Linked DNA regions of Homo sapiens. The protein of the gene in region 1 interacts with the protein of each later gene in a biochemical or structural test. Each region holds a gene or a part of one and is shown on either strand. Other genes may lie near its edges.

Region 1 (10,590 bases):
GACACAGGGTGGGGAACATCACACACCAGGCCTGTCGTGGGGTGGAGGGGGGAGGGATAGCATTAGGAGATACACCTAATGTAAATGACAAGTTAATGGGTGCATCACACCAACATGGCACACGTATACATATGTAACAAACCTGCACGTTGTGCACGTGTACCCTAGAACTTAAAAGTATAATGAAAAAAAAAACAGCAGGTGGGCCAGGCATGGTGGCTCATGCCTATAATCCCAGCGTTTTGGGAGGCTGATGCAGGAAGATCACTTGAGTCCAGGAGTTTGAGGCCAGCCTGGCAACATAGTGAGATCCCATCTATTAAAAAAAAAAAAAATTAGCCAGGCATGGTGGCACATGCCTGAAGTTCCAATTACTCAGGAGGCTGAGGTGGGAGGACTGCTTGGGCCTCGAAGGTCAAGGCTGCAGTGAGTTGTGATGGTGCCACTGCACTCCAGTCTGGGTGACAGAGCCACTCTTTGTCTAAAAAATAAAAATAAAAAAAGGTGTCTCAAAGGAAGAAACTGTGAAGATCAGTAGTTGTGATCTAGATACAGAAGGGGATATGGGTGTTCGGGTAATGATAAAAGCATGTTATAAACACTTGATGGTATGAGAAGTGTGAAGTCTTCAGAATAAATCTTGCCAAAGGTAAGAAGTGTGGTGGAAATAGGGCAGAAGAATAGCCCAGGGTCAGAAAAGAAAAGAGTCCACTGCACCAAGGGACTCTAACTACATTTTAATACGAAGCCACAGGAAACTATGAAATTATTTTGATGCCCAAAATTAGGCTTCAAGAAAATAAATTCAGTGGCAGCATGTACAGAAGACTGGAAATAGGAGAGACAAAGAGAAAGTAACTCAAAATGCTTCACCCCAGAATCTAGAAAAATGGTATAGAAGGCCCACACTGGCCCAGTACAAATGGGAATATTGTGGAAAGAAAATTCATTCACTTGAGCAAACCAAAAGTTAGGGAACGAAAGATGATGTCAGATACCTAATATTAAGAATGGATCAGCCAAAACTGGGAACTAGGAAGGAAATGCAGATACAGCAGGAAATCTAGCAGTCGGAAAATATGTAAGAGGTAAAAAGAGAGCAGAGCCAGTGGAGAGAGAGAAAGGAGAAGTTGGAGTACAGAGATACACCAAGAAAACAGGAGAAAGAAAGGTTTGGACACTGTGGATAGGGTGATGGCAATAGAGAAGGCCTCTGGTGACCAAGCCCAGTGGTGTCTCTGAATACAGCAGTGTCCAAAGAGAATGGAACAGAAGCCAAATTACAAGACTATTAACAAATTGCTGGGTTTTCGAAGCAGATGATCTTTTGGAACTCTTGGGAGAAATTTAACAGGGTGAGAGAAGGAGAGAGAGGCTGGTAATTTAAGAAGCATTGTGGGATTTTTTTTTTTTATAGGAAGACTTGAAAAGGGTTGTAGGTCAGAGGAAAAAAAAATCAGAAGGGAGAAAGGATTTAATAATCTTTATTGGCAGGAGGTTCATATTTCTAACTTAAATCTATAGCCCAAATCATTTCCTCTTGCTTTGTTTTTAAAGATCAAGAACTTCAATTTCCCATCCTTTACATGGTGAAGACCTTCATATATTTGGGGTATGTTATTAAATCACACCTCAGCCTTCAGTTCTGGCCGAAAATACCAATCAATCAGTCTTTTTTTGTGAATTTTACTTTCCAAACTTTTAATAATCTCCATGACTTTTTCTTTGTGCTCCTCTCCATGTATTACAGAGTCTTACTTAGAAAAATCCACAAGATGATCCAACATTTATTAATGGCTAAGCCTAAACTGAGTTCTTTAAAAGGTAGTTATACGATGATTTCTCTACACCAGTGGTTTGCAAGCTCATTTTGTTTTGTTTTCCAAACAGAGAAACCATTTATTCGAATTAAATCATCTGTGAGACGGAAGGAGCCTCTCTGATTAAAGTAAGAGTAAGCAAAATAGAGTCCCAACTATCATCTCCCCTCCCTACTGTGAAGAAGCTACTGATGTAACCCAAGCAGCCCTAAGGGTCTGAAAACCACTGTTTTACAACATGCTCTGGTTTATGTGCACAGATGTTAAATTCACTGTTTCAGGTACAGGATAACAGTACTGAATAACAGCTGGGTTTTGTTTATTAGTTTCTAACATTTCTCCCAAAACATCTATGCAAGTTATCTTTCCTATACCATATAAAAATTGTCTTTATCCATATATAATCTGTAAATTTTCCCCAAAACTTTTTCCTACTTGCAAATGTTATGCAGAATTCTGACTACGTATTCCCAGGAATTAGCTACTTCTTTTCTATATAACTTAATGACAGCTGCAAACCTAATGTGAACAGTCTCTAAGCAATGTCTCTGATGAGCATAGAAACAATAGAACAGACCCAAATATGCTGTGTTGCTAATAAAATGTTTGGTGGTTCTCCCCGTCAAATGTCAAAATTAATGATATTCCTCTTCTACTAAATATCCTAGAAGCACTGCGCTACAAAATAAAAAGTAACAGAAAAGAGTCATAAAACATGTATTTGTTCACTTTGATACTAACCTAATAAATTTAACAGCCAGGCCCAGGTCAGCAATACAGCAAGTTCCATTTTTCTTCACCAGAATGTTTTTACTTTTCAGATCTCGATGGGCAATTGCTGGTTTGCCTTGAGTACTAAAGATTTCTGTGTGTAAATGACATAAGCCACTGACAGAAGAGTAGGCTAACTTCAGCATTGATTTAGCGTCTAGGGTGGTGGACTTCAGATAATCATAAAGGGAACCATTTTCATGATAGTCTGTGATTAGGTACAACTGGGTCCAGGACCCTGTCCCTTTGATATCTGCAGCAATGAAACCTAAAAGGAAAAAAGATGAAAAGGTTTAGTGTTTTCCAAATAGTATCAGGAATAATTCATATTCTCAAACATCATTCTTTGTCATAGATAATTTTTGTTTAGCATTTCATTCAATTTCCTGACTATGCCTATGATGGTATTAAATGACTAATACCAATAAGAAGCAATCAAAATTGTACAAGTAAGGCTAGGCACAGTGGCTCACACCTGTAATCCAAGCACATCGGGAGGCCATGGCGGGTGGATCACTTGAGGTCAGGAGTTCAAGACCACTCTGGTCAACATGGTGAAACCCCATCTCTACTAAAAATACAAAAATTAGCTGGGCATGGTGGCATGTGCCTGTGATCCCAACTACTCGGGAAGCTAAGCAGGAGAATTGCTTTAACCTGGGAAGCAGAGATTACCGTGAGCGGAGATCACACCATTGCACTCCAGCCTGGGTGACAGAGCGAGACTTTATCTCAAAAAAAAAAAAAAAAAAAAAAAAAGAAAAGAAAAGAAAAAGAAAAAAACCTGTAGGAGTAGAGAAAGATTAAGAGTTTACATCTGAAAATATGGTCCCTTCCTAATCAGTAGTTGATGTTTAAACTACTTTATGGTATTACAAACTACTATGGTATATAAACTACTTTATGGTATTATGGTTACACATAAGACATTGCAAAACAGGGTCTTGAATTCTTGAATTAAGGAATATACCCCACTGATTAGCTTACTCTCCTTCTACTTGAACGATCCAGACAGATCATTTCTAACTTGCGAAACAAAATCAATTCTCAATATAAACTATTGATATAAATAAACCCTGCAGATAAGATTCCTACAACTTTTCTCAACATTTAAACAAAAATAAGTTCCTTCAAATTCCTAAGAAACCCTAAGAAATTCTGGTTTTACACTCGCATTTCCTGTTTCTGAAGAAAAAATATTTGAGAGTATTCCATTTCCAGCCTACCACTTACTCACAGAAGTGCCTTAGTCATTCCTCCTGTGAGGTCTCCCATTAGAAACTTATGATGTTCTTGGGCCCATGCCAAGAAGAAAACTTCAATACATTTCGCAACGGGTCTAGACAGATGAGTTAACATGCAGATGTTAACAGAAAGACAGAGGAAAGCTAGGAAACCCTGAACATAGCTATGCAGACTTTTACTCACCCAAAATGTTTTCATGCCTCATCAACACTGTCTGATATATTTCTGTCTCTCTGAACCAGCTGGCTTCCTCTGTGGTGAAGAACACTTTCACAGCTACCTTTTCGCCACGCCACTTTCCCATCCAAACTTCCCCATAGCGACCTTTTCCAATCTGTTTCACCATCTGAATCTGCTTAGCTATAGTCCTTTGGACCTGTGAAATCCCAAAACACACTGTTAGTGTATTCACAGCGCTACAGATTTGTTTAATCTTTTTTTCTCCAGAGAAGAAACGATTACTGCATGTAAAATATATTTAGCTAGTATTTTTCTCTATATAGACAACTTATTTGTATTTATTTATTAATTTATGTTACACTCTTTTAAACATATTTGAGATTGAGTGTGGATTCTGAATGTTCAAAACACTGCTTCCAAATTATGAAATACTTTATTTTAGTATTATTATTTTCTCAGAGAAAAAACCTGAGTAGGCTCATAGTAATCAGCAGAGTAGAATACTTGCACTTCCCCGTTATAATGGACTACTACATACTCTGAAGAGACTCGTCACCATACACCTAATCATGTATAAATATAACAAAACAAAATTGTAATGCATTGTTAGGCACATACAGAAATAAAGGAAATCTATATGCAGGGAGGAAGAAAAAAGGGAGGGAGGGAGGAAGGAGGGAGGGAAGGAAGGAGTTGAGACCAGACCAGGGAACGATAAACCAAGCTGCCGTCTGGGCAAAGAACAATACCAGAACTGGAATCCAGAGTTTAAACTCTGACTCCTTTAAAACCAGAGGAACTGAACCTAGGGCTTCAGCATTAAGCAGAGAGCATCAAATGGTACTAAATTTGCTATGGGTTGGTAGCATGCCAAGGCTCCTCATTACAAATGCTCTCTCTTGAGGAAACCATTTGCAGAATACTTTTCATGCCGTGACTATGGCGGGATAATAGTACTTTGAAGGAACTCTTGCCACCATACAACTTGATCATGGGTATAACATAAGAAATAAACTGTAATGCACTCCTGGGCTCACAGGGAAATAAAGGAAATATCCAAGAATGGGGAGGAAAAAGGAGAACAAAAAAAAATGGAGGGAGAGAAGAAAGAAAGAGAATGAGAGAAGATTATAGAGAATGAATTCTTTAGAACAAAGAAACAGTCACTATAAATGAGAGTCAACAGAAACAACCCAAGTAGATTTAACCTCTTCAGATTACATACTGGAATTCTGAGATACAGAATGCCAAGTAACTCTAAATGAAATGAAAATTGAATAAAAAATAAGCAAGAAAAGATTAATGGAAATTACATTTTTGTAATGAGACAGTTAATTGTCACAATAAAAAATGCAAAACAGGTAGACAAACCAGCATATTAGAGAGAAAAGTTAATAAGAGAAAGTAACAAGTTGGAGATAATATTATTTACCAAGCTCTAAGAGAGCTCTGAACAATATTATAAAGAGTGGAGTACAGACAAAGAGAATGAAAATATGAGTTAAGTGGCATTAAATTTAAATGTCTCTTTATATATGATCTTCATCACATCTGTACTTACAGTAAAATATTTGAAGAACTCTGATATCAATGGTTCCAAGATTGAAAGGGCTAAGCATCTATTACAATTTATATAATTTAGAGGACATAAGGAATCTAGCGTATAACTCTTATAACACCTGATCAGCAAACTGGAACGTATTCTTTGTAGAGATATACTTTACACCAATTAAAAACTTAAAGTTTTTCTTTTTGTACTTTTAAGAGCCATGCAATTACATTGGGCCACCCCAGATAATCCAGAATGATCTCATCTTATCGTCAGCAACCTTTGCTCACCTTTGTCATAGAACATAAAATTCTAGGGATTAGGTCTGGGCACGGTGGCTCATGCCTGTAATCCCAGCACTTTGGGAGGCTGTGGAGGGAGGATCCCTTGAGTCCAGGAGTTCAAGACCAGCCTGGGCAACATGGCAAAAACTCAGCTCTACAAATAATATGAAAATTAGCCAGGTGTGGTAGCACACACCCGTAGTGACAAGCTACTTGGGAGGCTGAGGTGGGAGGATCGCTTGAGCCTGGGAGGTCAAGGCTGTAATGAGACAAGATCGCACCACAACACTCCAGCCTAAGTGACAGAGTAAGACCTTGTCTTAAAAAAAAAAAAATCCTGGGGATTAGGGCATGAACATTTTGGGGGGACATTATATATTATATATTATTTATAATGAAGATTATAAATTTCGTAATTTATTAAAAAAGAACTGCTGATGTACCATGAAGCCACTGAAGCTTGATGGAAATAAGCAAGCAAGTTTATGTGTAATGCAGCCGTCCTCTCTTTAGGAGCCCTGTGCGCCATGAGACATCATGTTGAGTCCACTGTACTCCATTTCCAAACAAGGAAACAGGAGCAACATGGGCACCAGTTGGGAGCCAAATTCATACACAGGGAAATCACTCATTTGAGAGGAAACTTCCCACATTTATTAAAGAAAAATATTTAATTTACAGATCTTACAAAGCATTGCTCATGTAAGTCTATGGAGAATTTCCTAACATAAGCAGTTTTGCATCTGCTTTTTTTTCTAACGATAATACATTTTATAATTTAATTATAAGTTTTGACAGAATTGGCGATACTTGATAGAATAGGAACAACTTATCCCAAAGACAGAAAGTAAGCTATTATAACATGTAAGGACCTAAAAATATAACTTCAAAATTTTTTAACTGATTTATTTTAGTTTTTATTTGATTTAGCAAATGTTTCTGGTCCTTCTGTACCTAAACTTTAATTCTATATTACATTCTTAGATACCAACTTTTTAGATTGATTGTATAAATAAAATGCCTGTAAGATACAATGACTATAACTGTACTTTCAAAAAGATCACTATATTTCATGTACTCTGAGAATAACTGAATGTATAAGGAGTTATAAAGAATTATCACTATTCCAGGACTGTGAGAAGACATACACAGAACACACACACACACACACACACACACAGTCTTAATTCTTACAACAGCCCTACGATATTATTTCCTTTTAAAGTAGGAAAAAATTGACATTTTATGAAAAAGAAAAGATGCAAAATTAAAGGGCACGTATAAAGTCATTTGTTAAACACAAGGTCCAAGTATGTGGTTATATATAAGGCACTAATTTGCCCATTATGTTATTAAAATTAATAACAAATCAATGTTAAGATGAGGTATTCACTCACATATCAATATATGGAGAGAGAACTGTATACCTCTGCATTGTTTATCTTAATAACCAAATCTTAAAACCAGAAAATAAATCTGTAATAGAGACTTTTTCTTTATTGAACTGAGTTTTATAGAACCCTCCTTCCCATCCTACCGCCATCAAATGCACTTTCTTGTTTTATTTAACCAACATTTAGTTCACATCTCACTAATGTTAAGAGCACAGATCATCTGGGTTTGAATCCTGGCTTCTCCACGTACTAGCTAGCTGACCTATCTGGGCCTGTATCCCCTGATGTGTAATACAGGGTTATACTGATATTTCTGGTACTACCTTATAGGGTTGCTATGAGGACTAAATGAGAATTTGATTTAGTTTTAAAGGCCAATGTCTGGCCAGGATTGGAACCCAGACAATTTGGCTTGAGAATATATGCTTTTAATCATTATATGATGTGAGCCAAATATTATTTTTTGGTATCTGGATTATAGAAACAAGACAGTATTTTTATAGCTATTAAAAGTAGGAGCTGAAAGCTTTTTAAAAACAAATTATTGAACAGCGCCTATAATAAATCAGCCACTCTACTGGGGATAGAAAGTGAGCAAAATGTAACCTCTACCCCAAAGAGGACAGACTCCACCAAAAGACACAAGAACATTACCACTAATTATAACATTATTTTAAATGGCCATTATTAGTGCTAAAAATAAAATGTTATCACAGAAGATAAATAGACTGGCTTAGTCTGGGGTAACTGAGAAGTTGTCACAGAGGTAAAACATGAGGTAGGCCTTGAGCCATGAGTTGGAGTGATGTCCAGTAAAGAGATTACATTTGCAATGACGTGGATATATGTTGTATTTGAGAAACAATTACTCAAAGGTGATGCTAGAGCCCAGGCAGCATACTGGGAAGAGGTGGGAGGAGACGTCAGGAAGGCAGGTTGAGTTTATGTGCCACACATACCAAGCTGGGAAAGAAGACCTGCAAGCAGTATTGGGTATTAGGATATTTTACCCAGGACATAACAGTGCAAGATCAATGGTTTTGGAGAAAGAACTCCACAGTAATGGGAAAGATGAGTTTGAAGGCAAGAAACACTGGAAGAACTCAGTTTAAATTCCAAGAGCATCTAATTCATTAATACCAAAAGGGATTTTACTATTTGTACATCTCTTTTAGAAAAAAATAAGTGTAATACTATTGATTTTCAAATTGTATTTGCTCATATATTCTCTTCAAGGTTGGCAGTGCTGACCATCAGAAAATGAAGCTTCTCCTGAATGGAAAAGCCAGAACTTTACCCTGAAACATAAACCCCACAGCTGAAAAGCAACCCTCTTTCTTTGTAGAAATACTGAGAAGCCAGTTGGTTGTAATACTTTAGCCTTCAAAAGCCAGGCCAAAGTGCGGTAATGCTATCCTTATGGAAAACACAGGGAAGATGGTCCCGTGTTTAATGTTTTCTAATCTGCTCTTCATCAGAATGTCTGAGGGTCTGGATTGTAACCATACACCTACATTAAAAAACAATCACCTTACTCTCAATATGTCAAAATGTTATCAGGAAGCCCTGCAGCTGAGATCGGATGTCCAACAGACTGCATAGAGCTTTCTCCTTGTCCAGTGCCCTATTTCAGTAAGTGAAACCCCATATTCATTGACAGTTCTTTCAGAAAACATTTCCTTTAAATTCAAGATGTGTTCTTCTCATACCAGCAGAGGGAGGCCTGATCCACTTCCTGAGCTCTGAGACTGCTCAATTAAGTCTCTCAGGGATTCTCCAGGAGGAATGTAAGTTTCATCCTGTTCTAACCCAATGCTGTATCGAGGTCTGGTTTCTTGTCTTTTATACCTAAAGATGGATAGATGAAGATAATTTTAGATAATGAAATGCAATGATGGAGTAAAATATTGCAACTAAAATGGTAATCACAGCAGTTTTATTTTAGCACCTAAATATAATACATTAAATGCTTCATATTTTTTACTCTTAGTTATGGTTTCCCAAGTAAAACTCATTACTGTTTGGCTAACCTATTTTTTAAAATAAACTAAATAAACTACATATTTTTACTCAGTCTCAAGCATCTACAATTTTTCTTCTTTTATTTATTTCAAATTGCACATATCCAAGCAGACTACATTCTACTAGTGTTTCTAAATAGCTCCAATATTATTCCTTAAAATCTTTTCTAAGGTCCCTAATTAATTAAAGATGTAAATTTTGGGTGTACAAAAATCATTATAGCTAACTCTCTTATATAAGGTCATATCTAAAGAAATAATATAAATTTAATCTTTAAAAACTTTTTGTCAATACTTAAGTTTTCAATTAGAAATGAATTTATTTGAATCAATTAATCTGACCATTTGCAGAGTATCTCAAATGAGTAATAAATTAATCAAAAGGCAAATGACATAAATATCAAGGTCCTTAATATTTCACAATCTAGAACATAAGTTCATAGGCCATTAAAAAAATAGGAATTACCGAATTTAATATAATAAAGGACCTTATTTTAATGATTAATCTATAAATTATGTTTAAAATCTTTTAATAATCAGAAACGTTATAGCTTAGAAAATAAGGAATTTGAGCAACTCTTAAGTTCAACATGGCCATTTCTCTGCTTGGAATCAAACCTAAGTAACAACCAGTCTCTGAAGTCTCTAACTACCCTAGTTTCCCTAGGGATAAAATATTTATATGGGTAGTTTTGAAGTCTGAAGCAGAAATGAGATAGGTATCTATTTGTAACTTCATTAGGACAAATATTTATCAACAGTAACAGACATTTTCAGTTAACTATAAGATCTAATTAAGATAAATAAAGCTGTGGTGAGAAACACTAACAGGCAAAAGCAGAATATTAGTAAAAAGAAGACACTATAAATTAAAAATTTTGCATCTACATGTTAGAAACTTACCGGAAGTAACAAAATAATATGATAAGGACCAAGAGCAAACTACAGACAGTCACAGATATAAGTAAAGCCCTGTGGTGTATAGGTCCATCAACAAAATCTGAAATTAAAAAGAAAAAGAGCCATAATCAAGAGAATATTTTTACTTAAAAATAAGAAAGTAACTCTTTCCTAAAGGTACTTGCTAAGTATCACGCACAAAATGTGAAAGATCCTTTTCACATACCAATTAATTTTTTAAAAACCCATATATACTCAAAATTAAATAAGTTTGACTAGCGTGAATCATCCTTCACCTAGGCACTTAATCAAGAGCACACATTTCTTCCTGTCTGGAAGGAACAGGCTCGACACAGGATAAAACTACAGAAAGAACATCAACAAAGCTAAGTGGGTCTGTGCACCCACAATAGAAACAGGTAGTTC
Region 2 (10,590 bases), on another chromosome or scaffold:
GGCCATGGAGGCAGGAGAAACTGTTCGCTCCTCCTCTGAGAAATCTAACCATTTGAACTTGATGTTTCACTGGCCTCGTAAGTATTTGATGGATTAAAGATGAAGTTCATTCATTCATCACAGGTCGTCTTTGGTAATCATCTCAATGAGACAGTATGTTATTATGGAAAGCTCTTTGAATCCAAAACTAGGTCCTGTTTTTTCACTTGCTAGCTTGAGATCTTGACCACATATGACGGTAGCCTTGTGTCTGAGTCTCAGGTTCCCCAGCTGTAAGGTGGAGACCGTGACACTCTGCCTGGCTTTTAGGATTGGTGTAAGGACCAAACAAAGAGAAGTAGATGAAAGCACTTTGTAACTTATGTAAATGTATGCTTATCTTAAACTTAGTATTTAATTTTAGTCGTTTTTCTATCTCTGTAAGATATTGCAGCAAAATATTTCCAATACCAGGAGCTTTGAGTCTTTCCATGGCCAAAATATAGCCCTCCCTGTCATGGGAATCCCAGGCCATCTCATTCTAGTGGCCATGGGATGGATACGCAGATTCAGATTGTCCCTAAAGATGACCATCTCCTGGCACTGACCTATCATAAAATGCAGGTGAGCAGAAGGAGACCCTCACACCGTCATCCCACAGCCCCTTGATTATGTTAGTTCAAAACTGTGAAAAAGTCAGTCTTCCCTGAAGGGCCTAATGGAAGGAATGGATTCTCTGACTTTGCCTCAAAGAACCCCAGCTGTAGCTCACCACTGTGCTGGGATGAACTTTAAAATCACTCAGCATCCACCCTCGGCTACACAGTCCATATGGGGAAGGACTGGGTACTCACTGCAGACCATTCAGAGGCCTTAATTAAAATAGTAGATGATTACTTAGGCATGCGATGTGGCTTCTTGTTTCTCCTTATTTCATAGGAACAAACGAGAAGATTTTCAGTCCCAATTTCAAAACAAGAAAAAATGAGCAAAGCCCAGTTTATAAATGCTCATATGGATCCTGATTTTTATCTTTTCTCAATCCTGTTTCTCGCTGTCTCCTACTTTCCCTGTTTTTAGAGCTTATTAGCCATAAAGTAAGCTAGTCACTAATAGTATCATAAATAAATTTTTAAAACATAATAGAAGTATTAAAATGTAAATGCCACTGCACTACAGCCTAGGTGACAGAGTGAGACCCAGTCTCAAAAAAAAAAAAATAAAAAAGTTTTTTAAAAAATCATTTATTTGTAATTTATCCTAATTCGCAAAAAGATCTGTCATAAGCAGCACTAGCAAGATTTTTGGTAAAGTTGAGAGGGTCTGCCGTGTCGGGGTGAAAGCTGATTTCTATGAAGCGCCTTATCAGATGTGCCTGTCTCTCCTAATTGTGTCATGCCTGTGTCCTGGGTGGTACCACGCCTTTCAGGGCTATGGCAAGTCACTGTGCTTGTGCCTCACAGGTAGATGTGATCTGACTCGGGCATGTTTTATCCTGACGCTGAGACAGGAAAGAGTGGGAAGGAGCTTCAGGCAGTGCGCTATTTACCAGGCCATTTTTTCTTTCTTTCAGAGACTCTGACCTGTTTTTGTTGGACACCCGTGTAGTATGGGCCTCAGAAGAAGGCTGGCTGGAATTTGACATCACGGCCACTAGCAATCTGTGGGTTGTGACTCCACAGCATAACATGGGGCTTCAGCTGAGCGTGGTGACAAGGGATGGTAAGTTATTATCCGCAAGCCTCCAACGTCCAGCAAGTCATCAGTTTCACACATTTCCCTTACAGCAGTTGTGATAGAACCGTGGGCAACAGGCAAGTCCTCAGCTTCAGGATGGCCTCATTTACTGATCCCCCATGACTTGCATTGAGAACCAAAACCTTTCCCGGAGGCCTCCTAGACAGGAATTGAAAACAGGCTTGGGCAACTTGGAGACAGGAGAGTGGTAATGTTTCCAAGAGGATGGCGATGGGAGGACAGCTTTTCTAGGCAGAGGCAGGTTGCGGGGGATGCAGCGAGTAAGAGAGAGGCAGGCGCATCTGTTTAAATCCTGACGGATGAACAGGTTTGCAGTACCCACTCCTCCTGCAGCATCAGAGCCAGCAGCTTGAGGTCCCCACTGCTGATCTGTCCACCAGGGAGGGCAGGGTAACTGCAGATTCATAATCTAGCAGAAACAGGAGAGCCCAGGAGTTCACGCCACTCCTTCATGTGATTCTGAAACTTTGAAAGGAGTGCTTTGATTCTGCCAAAAGATGCCATCCCATGGGTGCCAGGCAAGGTTTGGGGATACATGATCTTCTTCTTCACACTCATTCTTAAGGATTAGCACTTAGGAAACTAGGAAGTATCCCTTAACTGTTGTAGCTACAGGAACAAGTTTCTGTGGAATAAAGAGATGCATGCTTTGATTTGCATTAAAGGAGTCCACGTCCACCCCCGAGCCGCAGGCCTGGTGGGCAGAGACGGCCCTTACGACAAGCAGCCCTTCATGGTGGCTTTCTTCAAAGTGAGTGAGGTGCACGTGCGCACCACCAGGTCAGCCTCCAGCCGGCGCCGACAACAGAGTCGTAATCGCTCTACCCAGTCCCAGGACGTGGCGCGGGTCTCCAGTGCTTCAGGTGGGTTTGTGGGGAGCCTGTGTTTCCAGAAAGCCTTGTTGGCCTCAGTGAGAACAAAAGTTGTGTCCACAGTCTCAGATGTCGGGCAGCTTCTGCACAGCAAATCCAAAGGCAAATAGGTGTCATATGCATGATGGTACCTTGTACAGTCGCAGAACATCTGCGTGGGTTCTGAGGGCCCTCAGCCTGGAACACTTGTTACCTGAAGACTCAGGCTGCCCGCATCATGACTGCCTGTTGATCCAGACAAGCATCTTTCTGTTTGGTTACATTTCTCCAACTCTTTTTTAAATTCCCATCAAAACCCTGGGAGCACCTAGATTCTTTTTTCTAGTTGCGTTATGCTGGGGGGTTATGATGTGCAAGCGAACTTGGTACAGTTGTGTAATATGAACTTGTATTTGTCAGTGCTCTTGGCTGGAAGGGAAGGAAGGTCAACTCAGCCCTCTAGGATGGATTTCTTTGGCTCATTTAATGGAGAGGTTGAGGGTTTTTTTGTTGTTGTTGTTTGTTTTTGGGAGACAGAGTCTCCCTCTGTCGCCCAGGCTGGAGTGCAGTGGCACGGTCTCGGCTCACTGCAAGCTCCGCCTCCTGGGTTCATGCCATTCTTCTGCCTCAGCCTCCCGAGTAGCTGGGACTACAAGTGCCTGCCACCACGCCTGGCTAATTTTTTGTATTTTTAGTAAAGACAGGATTTCACCATGTTGACCAGGATGGTCTCGATCTCCTGACCTCGTGATCCACCCACCTTGGCCTCCCAAAGTGCTGGGATTACAGGCATGAGCCACTGCGCCTGGCCAGGGGTTCTGTCTTTAGGCATGGCTGGATCCATGGGCTCAGATGATAATCAGGAATCTCTCTCTTTTTCTGTTTTTCTATTTTTCTTTGTTGGTGGAATTCTTAGTAAAACTATCTCTATATGGTGGCCAGGAAGGCAACCAGTGGTTCCAGGATTTTTGTTACCCTTGGCAACCTCAACCTCAGACAGAGCCCTTCTTCAGCAGAAATCCAGGGCACGACTCCGGTTGGCTTGGCTGGGGTTGCGTCCTCCAACCTGAAGCACACTGCTGGGTGGGGAGTGCTCTGATTGGCCAGACCTGAACTGTGTGCTCACCCGGGAGCTAAGGAATAAGGTGAGTCCCATTCTGCTCAGAACAGACACATTCAAAGGGCAAGAGAGAGAAACCAGCTCTGCTACCTGAGTGTCAGCTGAGTGGTCCTTCAGAAGTGTTCTCCCTGGCAGGGTGCAGTGGCTCATGCCTATAATCCTCACACTATGGGAGGCTGAGGCGGGCGGATTACTTGAGGTTGGGAGTTCGAGACCAGCCTGGCCAACGTGGTGAAACCCCATCCCTACTAAAAATACAAAAAATTAGCTGGGTGTGGTGGCATGTGCCTGTAATCCCAGCTACTTGGGAGGCTGAAGCAGGAGAATCACTTGAACCCAGGAGGTGGAGGTTGCAGTGAGCCAAGATTAAGATTATGCCTGAGTGACAGAGCGAGACTCCATCGAAAAAAAAAAAAAAAAAGTTCTCCCCAGTGTGTTTTTAGGAAGTGGCATGGAAGTCCACCCATGGAAGCCCAGAGGAAGGGAGAGTGGATGTTCCCTCCCCACAGCCAGTCCCGTAGCTAGTTAGGATTGAATGGAAACCCAGACACTTCTGACTCTAATGCCAGTGCTTGCAAATTCTGGGGTCCTTTGGCTATTTAAATAGCTTGAGAATCAACCATAAAGGTGAAGATTGGCAGTGGGATTTGCAGCCAGAGAACTTGTTTCCCTGGTTGCTACCCTGTGATTTTGGACACATTTAATCTGTTTCAGCTTCCATTTACTCATCTGTAAGATGGGGATGATGAATGCCTTGCAGATTTGCTGGAATTAAATGAAAAGCATCAAAATCTGGCTCATAATAGCACTCAAAGATTATTTATATGCCATTGTAGGAAGTAGGTTCTCAGGGCATATGTTGGGATCCCTGGAAAACAAGTAAAATAATTCTGGAAGATGCATTAATTCTTCCAGGTAATTGTACAGAAATGTCATTTTTGGTGGCCAAACATGTTGGGAAGAGTTAATGCAACTTCCCAAAGTACCTATTTCTTCTTTGGGAAGCAGTGTCTCCATTTTGTGTTCCGACTTAAATCAACCATCTATTTTACCAGTAACTTGGATGTGGAGCTTGAGGATCCACCGCCCAGCGTGATGTGACATTTTGCTTCTTGTCATCCTGGTGTTTCTCGGAAGCATTGCTCACAGCATGGGTGTTCCTGTATTCACCACTAGAAACAGTCAGGGTTGGGGTTTTTGAAAAAGAGAAGAAATGCTTGCTTTCCTTTATTCACTTCAGAGGCAGCCTGCTGAACAGAGTTAATAATCTCAGTGTTTTCCTTCGGGCTATGATGATGAAGTCTGCCAATGGTAGGCTTCAATTTATTAATGGAAGTCTGCCAATGGTAGGCTTCAATTTATTAATGAACTGTGGTCAGTTTGGTGCTGGGACCTCAGACACAGAGGCATCTCTTGAAATGTTGATTGCTTTTTAAAATTAAAACTTCACTTGATTTTATTCAGTACCCCCCACCCAATGCACACACTAATGTTTTTAAATTGAGAAAAGATGTTGTGTCTGATTTTGATTTTAGCAATATCAACCAATTATTATTTTCCAAGTCCCTTTCAACTTTTTTCAATTTGATGAGTTTAAATTAAATATGGATATTCAAGTTGATCTAATTAGTAATAGGTGCAAATATCTCTGTTTTTCAGTGGTCTCCCCCCGCCCACCTCCCAAGCCAGTACTTCCAAATTTGCTTTGTCCCTTTCAGTAGTACAAAGGCAAAAGGGTTCATACGAAATCTCTCCGGTCTCACCTATTTAAAGGCCCCCAAGAAAGAATGACGATGAAGGATGCTCCCTCCTTCTCATTCTCTTCAAAGATCCTCTAAGTGATCTGGGAAATTGCTCATGTCTGGCCCACTGAAGCGCTTCTTTATATTTTTGGCTCTTTCTTCCTTATCTATTCTTCCATTAATGGGAGTGGACATGCTGAGGAAGAGATTCCCAGAAAAGATTTCCAGAGAGATGGCCTGCTACCTGGAGAAATGGCCTGTCTGGTGTTCCTCTCCCTCGGGGTCTCTGTGAGGCCAGATGTTGCTGGGCCTTCATGAACCAGGTAGACATTACAGTAACAGAAAAGTGGTGTACTCTGGCGTGACTGCAGGCAGACTTTCTGCTTGTAAATCTTTTGGAAGTTGGAAGGAAAAGATTGCATTGTCTCTGCTGCCCCCTTCTTCCATGGCGTGCTCCCAGGGAGTTGATAGTTCTCCACCAAAACAACCACCACCAGAAGCAGCCCACCAGGGATCGTCCTACATCTGGGTAAAGAAGTTAGCATTCATTCATCAAATTGCCTGTCATCAGGGTGAAACGTGGCAAGGAAATAAGAGGCTATTTTTGGAATTGTGCTGTCAGTGCCTGAGACGGCAAGACTAGTGCACAGCAGTGGAGAGGCCAGGAGCCCCACCACCCACCAAAATCTACTCAAACATTTGTACTTGGCTTTCAAGCTGGACTTTCCAAACATGTGCACTGGATAGTGGTTTGGATCGACGTCTCCCTGGATGGCTTTCACTTGCCCTTGCTTCTCTGCAGCTGGCTGCTCTAAATGAAGGCTGGATGTTGGTTGGCTCTGTTATACTTCTCCAGGGGCTTGGATAGCCTCTGCATGGTATCATTTATTGTTTTTACACATGTTTGACTAGTCCTGGTCCTAGCCGTCTTTGCCCCATTGGGGATTTTAACCAATCTACCAATTCTTTTTCAGCCTCCATTTCTTACCAGCCTGCTGCTCTTGCAACACCTGTCCTCAGGTTCTATAGCTCCAGTTTGGTGGTCTCCTTCTACTTGTTATCATTCACTCTCTTTTATGGTAGCTCTCACTTGGGGTTCACTATTTTATCTTCTGGGGGACTGTGATACCACTTGGCCAATCCATGACAAGGTCCATGAACAAATGGCCTTGAAGTTCCATTGGGTGATTCTAAATTTTCATTTGGCTAATTTTCCGGATCTTTCCAAGACCTCTTTTGAGAGGGTGTAGCTAAAGCAATTTCAGGTCAGCTGGTAAGTCTGAAGTCTGCTCTGCTGCTGCTGCTGTGAGGCAGAATTGGTCTTTGTTTTGATAGATGAGTTTGGAAACATTATCTGCACTTTAATGATCCATGTGAAATTGGAGTAGTCTCTTTCAGTCTTGATGTTTATGTTGTCACTACCCAGCTCTGCCAACCATCTATGACCCAGCAGCCTCTTGAGACACTGTCTGTCCTTTGGAATGAGTCTGCCATTGTATCAATGCCACCTATTAGCATTTCTTTTTTGTTTGTTTGTTTTTAAGACAGTTTCACTCTTGTTGGCCAGACTGGAGTGCAATGGTGCCATCTCAGCTCACTGCAACCTCCTCCTCCCGGGTTCAAGCGATTCTCCTGCCTCAGCCTCCCAAGTAGCTGGGATCACAGGCATGCACCACTACTCCTGGATAATTTTGTATTTTTTTAGTAGAGACGGAGTTTCACCATGTTGGTCAGGCTGGTCTCAAACTCCTGACCTCAAGTGATCCACTTGCCTCGGCCTCCCAAAGTGTTGGGATTACAGGTATGAGCCACCACATCTGGCCAGCATTTTGTAGAGTAAGTTCTCCTTCCCTCCTTTTCCCACCCCCAAACATGTATCTTTAAGGACCTTGGGGGAAATTGTGGCTCTAGTACATTCAGGGATACTCCTGACCTTCTTCTTGATAGTTTATATTTTCTGTCCTTTAAGCTTCCCGGTTGGGACTATTCAATAGGCTTTCAGCGTAAATTAACCAGGAGTCATCTCTTGCAAAACAGCTGTTTGAGTAGTTTATTATAACTGTGCAATCTTGTGCTATACATTTCAAGGAAATCCAGTCCAGACTGGGGGTCTCATTGTTACAGTGTCCTCACTACTTCACCATTGGCTTCCATGGATTGGGGATAGCCAGAGCTGACTGGGTCGGTCCACCATGGACATTCAAAGCTTGGGAAGAATAGACACAGGTCAAGACTGTGAACTAGCAGTTTCTAGTTCTCCAGGAAAGTTGGGAATTGTGATTTGTCATTGTGATCTTAAACTTTTAGGGCCTGCAGCTTGGCTTGCAGATGTCTTAAGTAGAGTTTGGTTCAGGGCTTCCTATATGAAATCAAACCTTAATTCTCCATAGACATGGAGGACAGTCATGGCAAATAGTGATCTAAAAGTTAGAATCACCAAAAAAAAGTTAGAATCAAAAGCTTCACTTCTATCATGCACAACTCTTGTTCGAGGATAATGGCTATCAAAGAGTGGAACAGACTGGAAAGTTCCCTTCTACCTCCTCCCAAGGTTCACTCCTTGCAAATGTGCAAATGGCAACAATTCTAAAAGGCAATAAGAAGAAGCTTATGCAGGTACCGTGAGATGCCTAAGTCATTCCCAATCATTGCCAACCCTGGGAGGGCACTGGGGCCAGGAGACTCAGTCTAGGAAGTGGCAGAGAGTATAGAAGGTGCTTAGAGCACAGAGGGTCTTAGAGCTAAGTTTTTAAAGGAAATCTTTGTCTATTTGCAGGACAGTTCCATATTCTTTTAGAATCAAGACAAAGGCTGAAAAGAGACCAAAGTCCCACCCAGATTAAATGGGGCCTTATGAGATCCTGAAATCTCCTGGAGCAACCAAAAAATAGGGCCTCACTGTTGCTTCTCAATGTTGACCATCCAAATTATAAACAAAATCTAGACTCTGATCAAACTGTCCACCCCCACCCCAGCCCTATCAACTGTTAGGAGATTATTGACACCAGAAATCAAAACCCCAGTGTGGTCCCTGGCCTCCCGTAGTGTCGGTGACACAAGGAGCTGGCACCTGCTGCGCGTTCTTCAATGGCTGTATTGATTCTGCTGGGCGAGTGGGAGCGAGAGGCTTGTTTTGGATAAGATGGGGCCGATAAGGCCCAGAGATATGGAAAGAGCGGCCAGGCCCATGAAGACAGAGGTGCCACTTTAACGACCTCTATGTGGCCCTCACCCTTGTCATTCTAGGAGAGAAGGGAAATTAAAGTAGTGAATTATTCCCTCTAAAAAACAAGTTTCCTTTGGGAAGAGTCTGTAGCCTGAGCTCAGGAAAGCTGGGAAATACATGTGGAGCATGCCGCTTTGTCCAGTCCCCTGCCATGCTGGTATTTTCTTGGCTCTGTGTGACCTGCTGAGCGGGGACACCCGGCTGAGCTGGCAGGGCCTGCGGGGTCAGCCCAGGGCAGCCGAGTGGCCCCTCTGCAGAAGCCCTGGTGAGGAGACGACTCCCTGCCCACCTCTCTCCCTCTCCCTCCCCACCTCTCTCCCTCTCCCTCCTTCTCACCTGCTTTCTGTGGTGTCCCTGACATTCTCTCTCCCCTGCCTTTGTTTCCCTTCTCCCTGTCTTGCCCTTTGTTTCGCTGTCCTCCTCTACTGAAGTTGCAAAGCACAGCAGGCAGGGTCACTGGGACCCAGGCTGGCTCTGGCTGCCGTGACTCAGGCGCACCCCCCCTGGGAGCCCACAGGCTTGCTGCAGCGCCCTAGCCCCGTCATACTCACAGCAGCAGCTGCGTGGTGGCCCTCCAGCCCCGCGGTGCAGCCTCCCCGCACAATGCCTGCCTGAGAGTCAGGATGGTGGCTGCGCCCTTCCCTTCTCCTCTGGGTCTCATACCTATGGGCCTCTCCTGGCCTCCAGTGCCAGGGAAGCCTGCCTGTCACTGGCCCATCATGGCATATAGGGATTGAGCTTCAGAGCTAACCAACAGTGGGCTCCTTTGCACTTCGCTGTGTGCGTGGCTCTTCAGGAGGGCCAGATAAAAAGGATGCTGGATGGAATTAACCCAGATGTTATGCTTAGTGTGGGGTATGACCCCTGCATTGGGGGTATAGGCAATGTATACAGTGCATGTGCCGCTGCCTGGGGACATGGCTTCTGTGAGGAAGTCCCAGCCCAGCTAGCCGCCTTCTGTTGGGGCCAAGGGTGCCCTGTCCTCACTGCACTGGATGAGAGAGCTATTCTGCAGTTTTCAGTTTGCCTTGGGACGATTAGGATGCCCTGCCCCGTCACTGTCACATGGGCCCCGGCAGCCTTCCCATTTGTTTTCTCCTGTAGATGGAATGTCTCCTCAGTCATCACAGGGGAGACCAGGACTTAAGGTCGGGGAGCAGAGGCTATCAGCAAGGAAGCTGATTGTCAGGTCCAAGGCCTAGCAACTGAGATGAGAACTCCCCACCAGAACTGAGCAGACTGTAGGAGCTCAGCAGAGCCTGTGTGGAACGTGCACCTGCAACAGGAGGAGCAAGGGCAGGAAGATGCTAGAGGACAGAGAAAGGGGATCAGCCAGAGGCGTGTGTGCTGGGAGCTGCAGCATGTACCCCTGATGGCCCCCAGGAAGGGAGCTATGGCCCCTCCACCACCACCCTCAGAACAGGACTCTCAGATGTGAAAGCTCAGTTGTGTCTCAAGGACAAGAAGACTCCATCACTGTGTCCTCCCTCCCATCCGCTGGACTCCAGAAAAATGCACCTCCATATGGCTCCTTTCAAGTTAGCCCCCAACCCCTCCCAGGTGTACTGGCCCCCAGGTAACATGGAGGAATGACAGATAATGAAAGACACACCTGGGGCTTGGGAGAGGGATTTCAGAGCCATGGCTGGACCTGATGCTTTATTCCGAGGTGAATTCTGGATTGGAACACCCCGGTCTCTTATGGTAGAAAATGGCAGGCACTTCCACATGGTCCCGCCATCGGGAATGGATGGGACACTTCTACCTGTTTCTCTACCACTGATTGCATCGTGCAGAAGGCCTAAATGAGATGCAAGCCTCCCTTTGGCAAAGTATTGGAAAAATGAAGGCAACGTATTGGAAACATAAAGGCTTCATAAAGACACGCTTTGGGCACCACAGCTGGGACCTCTC
Region 3 (10,590 bases), on another chromosome or scaffold:
CAATATTTAGGGACCAATCAGAGAGCAGGTAGATGATCTGGGGACAGAATTGTACAGTGGTTAACTCCTCAGGCTCTAGAGTCTGAATGAACTAATTTTAAATCCTAACTACAATTCCCTGGCTGGATGCCCACAGGCAGGTTACTTAAATTCTCTGCACCTTGGTTTCCTCATTTGTAAAATGGGGATTATAATAATATCTACCTCTGAGGGTTTTAAATGAGATTCTACATGTGTAGAATAACATCATGCCTGATAGAGTGAGTGCTCACATTCACACATGAGTTCCCCAATTCACAGCAAGCACAGAAAAACATTTGTATCTTCTGCTTCCAGTATGCCACAAAGGTAATGAGTAATTACACTGACATCTTGGTTGACTTAGGTAACCACTTTCTTACCTCAACATTACTGCTTTGTTTTTTTCAACATTAAAGCAACTAAGAAATAATCCAATTTCTATTTGGATTCCTGAAGTGCTGGGATGAGGGACAGGCTTATAAACACTGGTCTAATAGGTGACAAGGATTTGGCTTTATTCTAGTAATAAAAATGTCATGAAAAAGGAGTTATTGAAGAGTTATGAAGAAAAAGTGTAATGCTCTAAATGATAGATTTTTAAAATCATCAGTTTGTTTTCAGGCATTGAGTCCCAAACTGGAACAAACTACCTCTGACAATAATTCTGTGAGAAAAGGATTTTTCTAAATCGATCCATATAAACCAGGCTGAGTTATTAAGGAGAAAAATGCGTTTAATAATATAGCATTCGATTGCATATCATCCAGGAAAGGTGTACTGTAAAAAATGTTTTGATTATTCATTGACCTCTGGTAACTTTAGCGTTGTAAATACTTGTATTATATGAGGTAGACAGTTTAAAAAAAACTCTCCATTAGACAGACTTAAAATTTTGTAATAATATTTAAGAAAATGGTAACATTATGAAAAAATGAAATATCTGATTAATGCTTAACTTTGTACAACTCGAATATAAACTTTAAAAATATTAGAAATTATAACATTTGAGTGCATATAACGTTTTGTACATTAGGATGAATTGCATGCTGTCCATTTCCTCTTTGCACTTTCAGTCACCTTAAATAAACAAATATATACAGCCTTAACAGAACAACAGTGCATCCAAAGCAAATGTGCATTTTAAATTATTTCTCCTGGCCAAGTCTTTTTTTCACTTAGCATTTTTATATTAGCATTTCTTATCATCCCCACCCTTTCTTTGACAGTTTGTAGTTCTCTGAACCAAACAAGCAACAGGTTTAGATTGGAAGAGAGCAAAATCACTTAGGAAAAACTAAAACTTTTTAAAAGGCTGGTACAAATTCCATTGATTAAACAATTTTATAGTCAAAGATGAGGAGGAAGCTAACTCTTCAAAGGGCCTACTCATGGGCAATGTTTGAAAACAATACTGGTGCAGGCTGGGGGAAAGTTCATGTTTTTGACTATCTGGGAATGGGTATTTCAATTTCACTGTGCTCTCTCCAGCTTCCTCCCAGAAGACGAATTCCACCCCTGTCTCCTTCCTCACTGCCTGTTCCCCATCTCCCACCCCAAGCTCAATGTAACACTTGGCTCTTTTCACAGTTTCTCATTACTAAGTTTTAAAAACATTGCCTAACTGATAATTACAATCTGAACCAATTCTTTTGGGGGAGCCCTGGGCTATTGCTGGCTGGTAATCTTTCAGGAATGTCAAAGAGAGGGGAGGGAACTCAGATTTTAAAGAAACTTCAGAGACAGGGACTTGTGTCCCCTTTCATCCCTCCCTTCCCCACTCCTGGCTCCTGGCCTGTCCCTTGATCCCCATCCTCCCTGAGGCCCACCATCTTCCCTCCTGATGGGACTCCTTCTACTTCTTGGTTCCTTTTCCCTCCTTTGTAGCTCTTACGTTAATTGTTTTGTTCCCCACTCCTGCCCATTTTTTTGAACTGGAAAATCACCTTCCCCTTAGAAGTGCATGTCTGAATTTTGGCAAATTCTGTTGAAAGAAATCAATTAGAATCAGAAAGGGCATTTGGGTGGGCTACCTCCAGCCTGGGCTAATGCACCTCCGTGTCAGCCCCAGTCAGAGGCAGGCCTTGTGGTTTCTCATTATCCTTCAAGGGGTTCCATTTGGACTAATTCTTGTCATTCCATCCATACCAGCTCCCCTTGCCCCCACCAGAAAAAGCAACAATGAAGGCAGAGACCTGGGCCCTCAGGAGTGAGATGAAGGTTGCCAGTTCCTGGTACCGAAAGAGGCCAGGGCAGAGCTGGTAAACTCACAGAGTACACAAATGGGTGAGAGGGGCACCCGTGGGCCCACCTCTCTCAAAGCTCTTCTATAGGCAGGACCATTCCTGACTTAACTATTCTTTTTGCCAATTTCCCTATCTAACACTTTCTGTGTGGGAGGGCACAAGACATGGGCTATGACATGGCCAGAGACCCCACCTTCTTTACACATGTAAAAACCAACCAAATCAAGATGCGTCAACGGTGATTCTTCCTCCCACATTGTTTCCCTTTTTAAACTGTTATTTTTTCAATCCATGGAGCAGTTGAGAAACGGGTATGCATCTCTCCTCCCCTCCCCTTCTATCAAAGCCTGTAAGACACATAAGGAAATCCAAAGCCACAGTAATAGAGAGAGAGAGAGAGAGAGAGAGAGAGAGAGAGAGAGAGAGAGAGAAAACAGAACAAAAGAAATCCTCCTTGGCTTGTTTTTCCAGGGTGGCCAGGCAAGGTGTGAAAATCCATATTTCCCTCTGGGCTGGCAGGTAGAAGTTACTGGGAAGGCTGCGCTCCCTTCTCTCCCACCGGCTCTCACATCCAGGCTGTTCCCTCACCCTCAGCCTCCCCCAGCGCCAGCTTCCTCCTCCGCCTCTCTGCAGCCAGGCCTCCCCTGCAAGGCGGACCTTGGCCCACCTTGGTTCCGGGCCAAGGCGGCGGGAAAGGCACCGCTACCTGCAGCCGCACGACTCCACCACCATGTCCTCGTACTGCTTGTAGACCACATTATTGCCCGCGTCGATGTATAGAATGCTGATGGGAGTCAATTTGGTGGGCACGCAGCAGCTGGGCGGGGTGGAGCCGGGGTCCATGGAGTTCATCAGCGTCTGGATGATGGCGTGGTTGGTGGGCTCCAGGTGCGAGCGCAGCGGGAAGTCGCATACACCCTCGCAGTGATAGGCCTCGTACTCCAGGGGCGCGATAATCCAGTCGTCCCAGCCCAGCTCCTTGAAGTTCACGTGCAGGGGCTTCTTGCTGCAGCGTAGCCTGGACTTCTTGCCGTGCCGCTTGCCATGGCGACTGGCGAAGGCCGTGCGCCGCCGCCGGCGGCCGGGCGAGGGCAGCCAAGGCCTGGCATCCGGGGCGCCCGACGGCGGCGGCCACGACCCCTCGGCGCCCGCGCCCGGGCCCGCAGCCTCGGCCGAGCCCAGCTGCTCGCGCATCTCTGCGAACAGGTTCTTGCGCTGGGATCTGGTGAATACCACCAGCAGGGCCCGCTCCTGGGGAGGCCGCACCCTCCGGCCGAAGCCCAGACTCCGCAGGTCCGGGGGCGGCGGTTGCTGGGGTCCCCGCGCGCGCGCCTCGGCCTCCCCGGCGTCCAGCTCGCCCCATGCGGCCCGCAGCTCCAAGCACAGCTGCTTCCAGGGCTGGTGGCGCAGGCCCTGCCACACGTCGAAGACTTCCCAGCCGGCCGGCGGCGCCCCCTGCGGGTCCAGGGTCCGCGCGTCCAGCAGTAGGGGCGAAAGGCAAGGGAAGAGCTGCACGTGGAGCGGCCCGGCTGGTGGCCCCCAGGGCGCTGAGGGCGCCTGGCGAAAGAGCCGCAGCTCCGCGCCCACCAGCTCTTCTTTGTCTGAGAGCATGGACACATCAAACAAATACTTCTGTCTCCGGAGAGGAGTGTGCGAGAGATCGTCTGCGAGATAAAAAATAATTACAGTCAGTTTCACTTAAGGGGGAGATCAGCCCGGTGCTCTTCGGCCGCCCCGGGAGGAAAAGGGCGGGGAGTGGGGGCAGGTCGGCCGGGCAGTCCAGCTTGCCCGGCCCAGGGCCTGACCACCCCGGCTCCCCATCTGGCTGGTGCATGGCGCGGGGAAGGGGGCGCGCCAGGACGGGCCCCCTCCTTCGCGTCAGCTCCGGACTCTCAGGGCGGAAGTCGGTGGCTGCTGGCGAGGCGGCGGCGGCGGCCTACCGGGTTTTCCCCCCAAAAGGCTTCGTAACCACTAATGTGCCCTTTGTGGTCTCAAGCCTGGGCCGCGTTTCCCCTAGACCTCCTCTGGGCTGGGCTGGCTCGTTCTCGTTGACGTCTCAAATGTCACCTCCTCCAAGTAGCCACCCCTGAGCACCCTGATCTAAGGTAGCCTCTCCAGGTCTCTATCACAGGACTGGCTTGATTATCTTCCCAGTACTTAGGATTATCTACAATTACCTTGTTTACTTTTATCTCCTTAGTAGTCTGCCTTTCCCAGTAACACTCTGTCTGCCTCCACCAACCCACGGGAGCTAGGCCGATGTCATTGTCCACCTTGCTCCCCTCAGTGCCTAGGGCGGTTCCTGACCTGGAGCACACGCCGGTCAGGTAAGTGGGAAACTTCTACGACAGCGAATCTTAATCTGGCCCACTAAAATGTCCTGGAGAACTGAAAAACTGCCAGGACCAGGGCTTGATTCAGCCTATTGAATCACTGTCTAAGGACAGGACTGGCCATGGGGTTTTTGTTTATTGTTTGCTTTTTTTTTTTTTTAACTCCAAGATGACTTAAAGGTGCAGTTCTAGTTTAGACTCACTAGTCTGGGGTAACATTGCTGCCCATCAGGCGGTTTTGGTGGGTCCAACACAGTGCAGGCAGAATGAAGAGCTGGTGAGAGATTTATTTATTTATTCACCAATCATTAAACAACAAACAAAAGAGCAATGAAGTTTCAGAAGTATTGGGGGCAGGGGGTGACAAATGAACAAACACACACACCTTGCATCTGTCCATTGAGAACATCCTGCAGTCAATGAGAAAAATATATACCTGGAAGGCAGAAAACTGGAAGGCAGAAAACCTCAGCCAGGGACAATTAGATACACACACACACACACACACACACACAGAGAGAGAGAGAGAGAGATAGAGAGACTTTCCCATCTCTCCTCCCACTCCCAATCTAAAATTCTCTCACTTTGCAACTATTCCTGAAGATAAAAGTTTTGGTCATAAGTGAGAAAAAGAAATTTAGGACAGGTGAGGTAGGGGAGTGTAACAGGCTTTTAAAATCCAAGGCAAATTCTTCAGAACCAAGGCAAAACCGGACTTCTTTTTTGACACATTTGTGCATGAAGCCAACTCCACTTCAATGTGCAAGGCGGAAAGCTAACCAGATTTTCCTGGGCTGCCTTCCCATAAAATATTTACAACCCAGCAAATACAAAAATCCCCAAAGCCCCCAGCCTTCCCCAGAAGCTAGTAAAGTTTGGGTCGATTTCAATAGTAAAAGTGTCACTGGGCCCAGCATCCAACCCTCTCTACCAGTCCAGATGTAGCCCGGGGGCACTGGCTCTGGAGCCTCTGCCACACCCAGTTTGTACTCGGGGCTGACCGTAGCACTGGCTGGTTCACTCTTACGCACATGCCCCAACCTGAGATGGGGTGTGGGAAGGGTTAGAGAGGTGAAAAGGGAAAAGCTGCTGCAGGCAGTTGATTTATGGAAGCCAAGACCTTCAAACAGACCAGGGTCACATTAAAATCAGGCGGAATTCAGCACACTTTCTTCTCCTTCAAAGAAACCTGTGTCTGACAATGCTCAGCCTCCACCCAGATCTCTGGACGTACTGCCTTAGGCTTGGCTTCCTGCCTCTCTCCCCAAACTAGGGATGAGATGAGAGCAACAAATCTAAGGCACTTGCTGCACTAGCTAAATGTGGTTAGGAATAACATATTTCCAATCTATATCCACCTGCACAGAACAGTTCTGAAAGGTAATTACTTGTATTATTCCCATTTTACAGATGAGAAAACCAAGGATTGGAGAAATTAAGGTATTGCCAAAAGTCAGACAGCCAGAAAGTGGTGAGGCTAAGAGCCATACTTATGTCTATTTAATTCAGAGTTGGAGCATTTAGCCCCTAAACCCCACTGCCTCTCCACTGTAGTCCAGGTACTGGAGTCTAAAAGTAACCAGAAGTGGCCAGTGTATAAGAAAAGGGGAAAAGAGTCCAAATTATTTGCAGGGCTTGCTAGGAATAAAATCTAGGCTCCCTTAGGAAATCATTTCCATCTTTGCTTACACAACTCTTGAGATGGTTTGCCACTGGCTGGAGTGCATTAGGCAGGTGTAAAGAATTATGATTTACTTCTCTCTCATGCAATATGGGGGAAATCAGCCTGCTTTTGTTTTTACTCTTTTAAAAAAAATGTGTGGGCTAATAAATGATTAATTTGCACAGCTGAGTTAAAACTGAGGCAAGCATCTGTAGAGAAAGATCTCCTACTGATTCTGCAGCCTTAGGATTTCTGATGATCTTTCCAGCAAGACCAGCCCACCCCTACCCTTTCCACGTTTCAGTGCAAGAATGCAAATGGGACTTCAGCTTCTTCTCTCTTCTCTTTCCACACTAGCTCCATCACCTACTTCAAGGGGCCTCACCTGTGAGCATGTGGCCATCCCAGCTGACAGCTTAAAGCTGTGCACAGTTTCACAGGTGCACACATCAGTGGTTCGATCTACCTTTGGGGGAACTGAATGGATGAAGAGGCTGTCCAGACCCTGCAAGTGAGCTCAGGGATATTTGGGCAAGAATTATATGGCCCAGGTATCTGGAGCTTGGTCTGGAATAGTGACTCTCAAAGCCACTAAATCTGCAGTGGTCTTTAAATCTGCATCATCAGCATCACATAGGCGCTTGCTAGAAATGCAAATTCTCTCTCGCTCTAGAGGCTTGTGGTAGGGTCTAGAATTTGTATTTCTAGTAAGCTCCCAGATGATGCTGATTCTGCTGGTCCAAGAAATTACTCTAAGAACCACTGATCTAACTGGGGGTTGTCCTCTAGGTTCTTTGAATTCACCACTGAGTAGGGGGGAGCACCAAACAAGGTGCTGCAAAGCACAGGGCTCAGGGCAGCATCTAAGGCAGTACTCACCAGGACCAAGTCAATTCTACCTCTCCCAGCCCATTCGTGGCCCCCAAAGCCACCCCCATTTTTTTATCCTTTCAGCCACAAGTTCTCTTGGTTCTGGGTCTCCAGAACCTCTAACCCCTAAACAGAAGGTCCAAGAAGGTGGCTCCTCTGTGCAGCTCCCCTGCAGACCACATTCCCTACCTGTCTAAACCTGCATCACAGAAATAGCTCAGAGGAGGCATCCAACCTGGGGAGTGAATACAACACCATGCACTGTTACCCTGAAGACACTTTGCCTGCTGCCTGCTGACCTGGCATCACAGAGCCTGGCTCAGCTGCCATGAGCCATCTGTGGGCAAAAAGCCAGCCCTTCATACTCCGTTCCAAAAGCCTCCTCTCCCATTAAGTCTTGTATAAATGAAGACTGATGTCATCAAATGATCCTCTCTCCCACCCCTTTGACTAAAAAAACATGCACTTGTCACTTGAAAATCTGTGGCACTTTCCCACATCCTGGAAGTGAATCCTATGCTTTGGGCCCTTAAATTGAAATTGACCAGAAATACATGGTGGGAGTTTTTTATTTCCCTTTTACTTTGCATCAACCTGGTTTGTTACAGCTTATTCACACCTCTGTTAACGGTGTTTGCTGAACATTAGACATATAAACATTTCCAGTTACAATTGCTGGATTAGGGCTTATCTTCGTTTCCTGGCAGCTACGTAGAGAAAGGAGGGTGAAGAGAGAAAAATAAGAAGGAAGGAACAAACCGTGGCATGTTAGAAGATACTCCTTCATAATGGTCAACGAGTTGGTAAAAGGCTGAAAGCACCTCAAACATATATTTCTGGTGTAGAATTTAGGAAAAATTTAAAAGAGGGGAGATGTTGGTCAAAGGGTACAAATTTTCAGTTAGGGTGAATATAAGGTAAAAAATAAAATTTTAACTAAAAAAAGAAACCAAGAGAAGGAATGGTACCTATTTGCAAAGTAATTACCATTGCACCCATTTTAAATGAGAAAACTGGCCTAGAAAGGAAAAGGGCATCTGTCCACGGTCACAGTACGTGGCTGGAGAAAGTTGGAGTGGCAAACTCCAGAGCGGAAAGGAAAAGATGCCCGCAACGCCAAAGGCCAGACGCCCGGGGAACCTGAGCCCCAAGAGGGCGGCATGAGGGAGGGACACGTAGCTGCAGGACTCTGTGCGCTTGCCCACTCCAGCCTGCCCACTCCAGCCCCAGAGCCTTCTGCTGGGGGCTACTTCCTTGGGCTAGCCTGTAGAGGGTTTCCAAAAACCAGAAACTTCCTTTGGTTGGAGGTGGGAAGGGCCTGGCATTGCATTTTCCCAAGACATCTCTGAGATATATACTCAGCTTGAGGTCCCTTTTGAAAGTCCTAGTTGGATTTTGTCACTCGCCTGGCTGTGCACCCACGGCTCCAACTTCCCGGACTTGCAGGATTCTTGGTACGGCTGACTTTGGGCTCCACGAGATTCCTCCGCGCGCACCTGGCTCACATCTCTGAGTACGCAGTGACCCTGGATAGCTACTGGCCAGGCGTCCCGCCACGCCTCCCAGCCATGTTCTCCGGTGGCACAGGCCCCGCGACTAGGCCACTGTCCAGAAAGTCGAGAAGATAGTGGACTTTCCCATCCCCAATCCCCAGGCAGGGAGAATCACCCATCTTTGCAAGAGAAACTCTAGGCGCCTTTCCCTTACCCCCTCATTTTAGAGCCAGCAGCAGCATTGAGCGCTTGTAGGGCACCACCTTTGTGCTAGGCACGTGCTCAGAGCTTTGATGGCCTCTCTCACTGAATTTTCACAGCGAACGTCTAAGGTCAGGCCTACTGTGATACTCACTTATAGATGAAGAAACTAAAGCTCTAAGAGGTATCTTGCCCATTGTCTTGAAACTAGCAAGGGACAGATGTTGAAGGTCCTAATTCCAAGTGCCCTGACCCCAGTCCTGCAGCGCAAGAGACAGGTGTTGAAGGTCCTAATTCCAAGTACTCTGACCCCAGTCCTGCAGCCATGCTGCTCTACCAGGGTCCTGTTTTGGCAGGGGGCCAGGAAATAGGACATAGCTTCATCATTAGTGTAATCAAGGTGGGCTGGGTTCCCCCAGGATTTTTTTTCTTTTCTTTACTACAAAGAAGACCTCCAAGCTCAAAATTCATGACTGGGCTTGGAGTCATTTTCTCAACTAAGTCTCTCACCTTCCGCGCTGCACTGAGGGGGCAAAGTCCATCAGGTTGGAAATAGAGCCAGGTGTACTGGGTGATTAAAAATGAGCCACCAACCCCTCCTCCTGGAGTGTGAAGGGCTTTAAGGGGAATCTGTGTGCCAACTATGTACCCTCTTCCTGAAATACAGATCTCTTGGGCCTCCCCCTGAGGAGATACTCATCCTGAGTCAGGCCTCTGTTGAGATCTGAGCTTTGCAAGCTGCTGACGCATTGCTAACATTCTTACTGAGATGTAAGTTCGGGAAGCAGTCCATACAATTCACCCTTTCCAGGGTGCTTTTTCTTAACCCCAATACTCATGCCTGATCCCCCAGCATAATAATCGTTAAGAGCAAACACTGGTGTGGCACTAAATCTGTTCTGGGCATGATCTAAATTCTTAACTTGTAGTAACTCATTTAATTCTCAAAACCACTTCTGAGACAGCCATCATTCTAAACTAAAAGAGACAGCTTGAGTAACTGGCTCAAGATACTAAGTAGTAGAGTGGGCAATCTGGCTCCAGTATCTGTGCCACCACCCTAGACATCCCAGCCCTGATCTCTGTGCCTTGTAGAAACCCTGAGAAACTCTTCCATGCTGCCCATGCCTGGAGGGAGGGCATCAATCCCTGGCCGGCAAGAGTCACTCACTTCAGCAGAACTACAGCAGTCATTACTTCAGCAGAAGAAATGTCGATGATTGGACTTGTGAAAGAGAATTTAGGAGGAAAATTAACAGGGCCACAGAGGGGTGCAAATGAGATAAGGTGTGAGAGAAAGACTTCTGAATGCAAATGTCAGTCACTACTGACAATGTGGAATGAGCATAGGAATTTAAAGTCTAAGAGACATAAATTTGAGTCCTGATCTGTGACTTAGTGGCTGGGTGACCTTGGTTAGACTGGGTCGCATAATCTCTCCCAGCCTCATATGCCTCAGCTGTAAAATGAGAGAACCACCTGTACCTTGCAGGATCATTGTAAAGGTCAGAGTCAAAGTACCTCAGGGATGTGCATAGTACATAGAGACGTCCAGTGAATGCAGCCAATATTTCTGTGACTACTTACATCTTCTAGGGGAAGGTGCACCTGTCCTTCTCTTGACTTCCTTTGAAATCCAGTTCTCTGGACTTCAGTCCTTGTGGTCCACTTCTCTCCACAAGATTCCAGAAGTGAGTGGAGGAAAGGTGCTAGGAAGCATGAGAAAGATGAAGACGCTTCCAGTTCCTGCTTATCTGAAGTCAAGT

The links.
Region 2: the proteins of BMPR1B (region 1) and BMP6 form a complex in vitro, tested with the Homo sapiens proteins (one study listed by BioGRID).
Region 3: the proteins of BMPR1B (region 1) and GDF6 form a complex in vitro, tested with the Homo sapiens proteins (one study listed by BioGRID).

What each region holds. Positions count from the first base shown.
Region 1 is NC_000004.12:95,123,484-95,134,073, reverse strand, and holds part of BMPR1B (bone morphogenetic protein receptor type-1B isoform b precursor), read right to left. Parts: intron 10,265-10,590; coding exon 10,168-10,264; intron 9,092-10,167; coding exon 8,953-9,091; intron 4,213-8,952; coding exon 4,020-4,212; intron 2,860-4,019; coding exon 2,562-2,859; intron 1-2,561. UniProt on the Homo sapiens protein: On ligand binding, forms a receptor complex consisting of two type II and two type I transmembrane serine/threonine kinases.
Region 2 is NC_000006.12:7,859,899-7,870,488, forward strand, and holds part of BMP6 (bone morphogenetic protein 6 preproprotein), read left to right. Parts: intron 1-1,552; coding exon 1,553-1,701; intron 1,702-2,402; coding exon 2,403-2,600; intron 2,601-10,590. UniProt on the Homo sapiens protein: Growth factor of the TGF-beta superfamily that plays essential roles in many developmental processes including cartilage and bone formation.
Region 3 is NC_000008.11:96,141,597-96,152,186, forward strand, and holds the end of GDF6 (growth/differentiation factor 6 preproprotein), read right to left. Parts: intron 3,929-10,590; coding exon 2,967-3,928; 3' UTR 737-2,966; downstream 1-736. UniProt on the Homo sapiens protein: Growth factor that controls proliferation and cellular differentiation in the retina and bone formation. Plays a key role in regulating apoptosis during retinal development.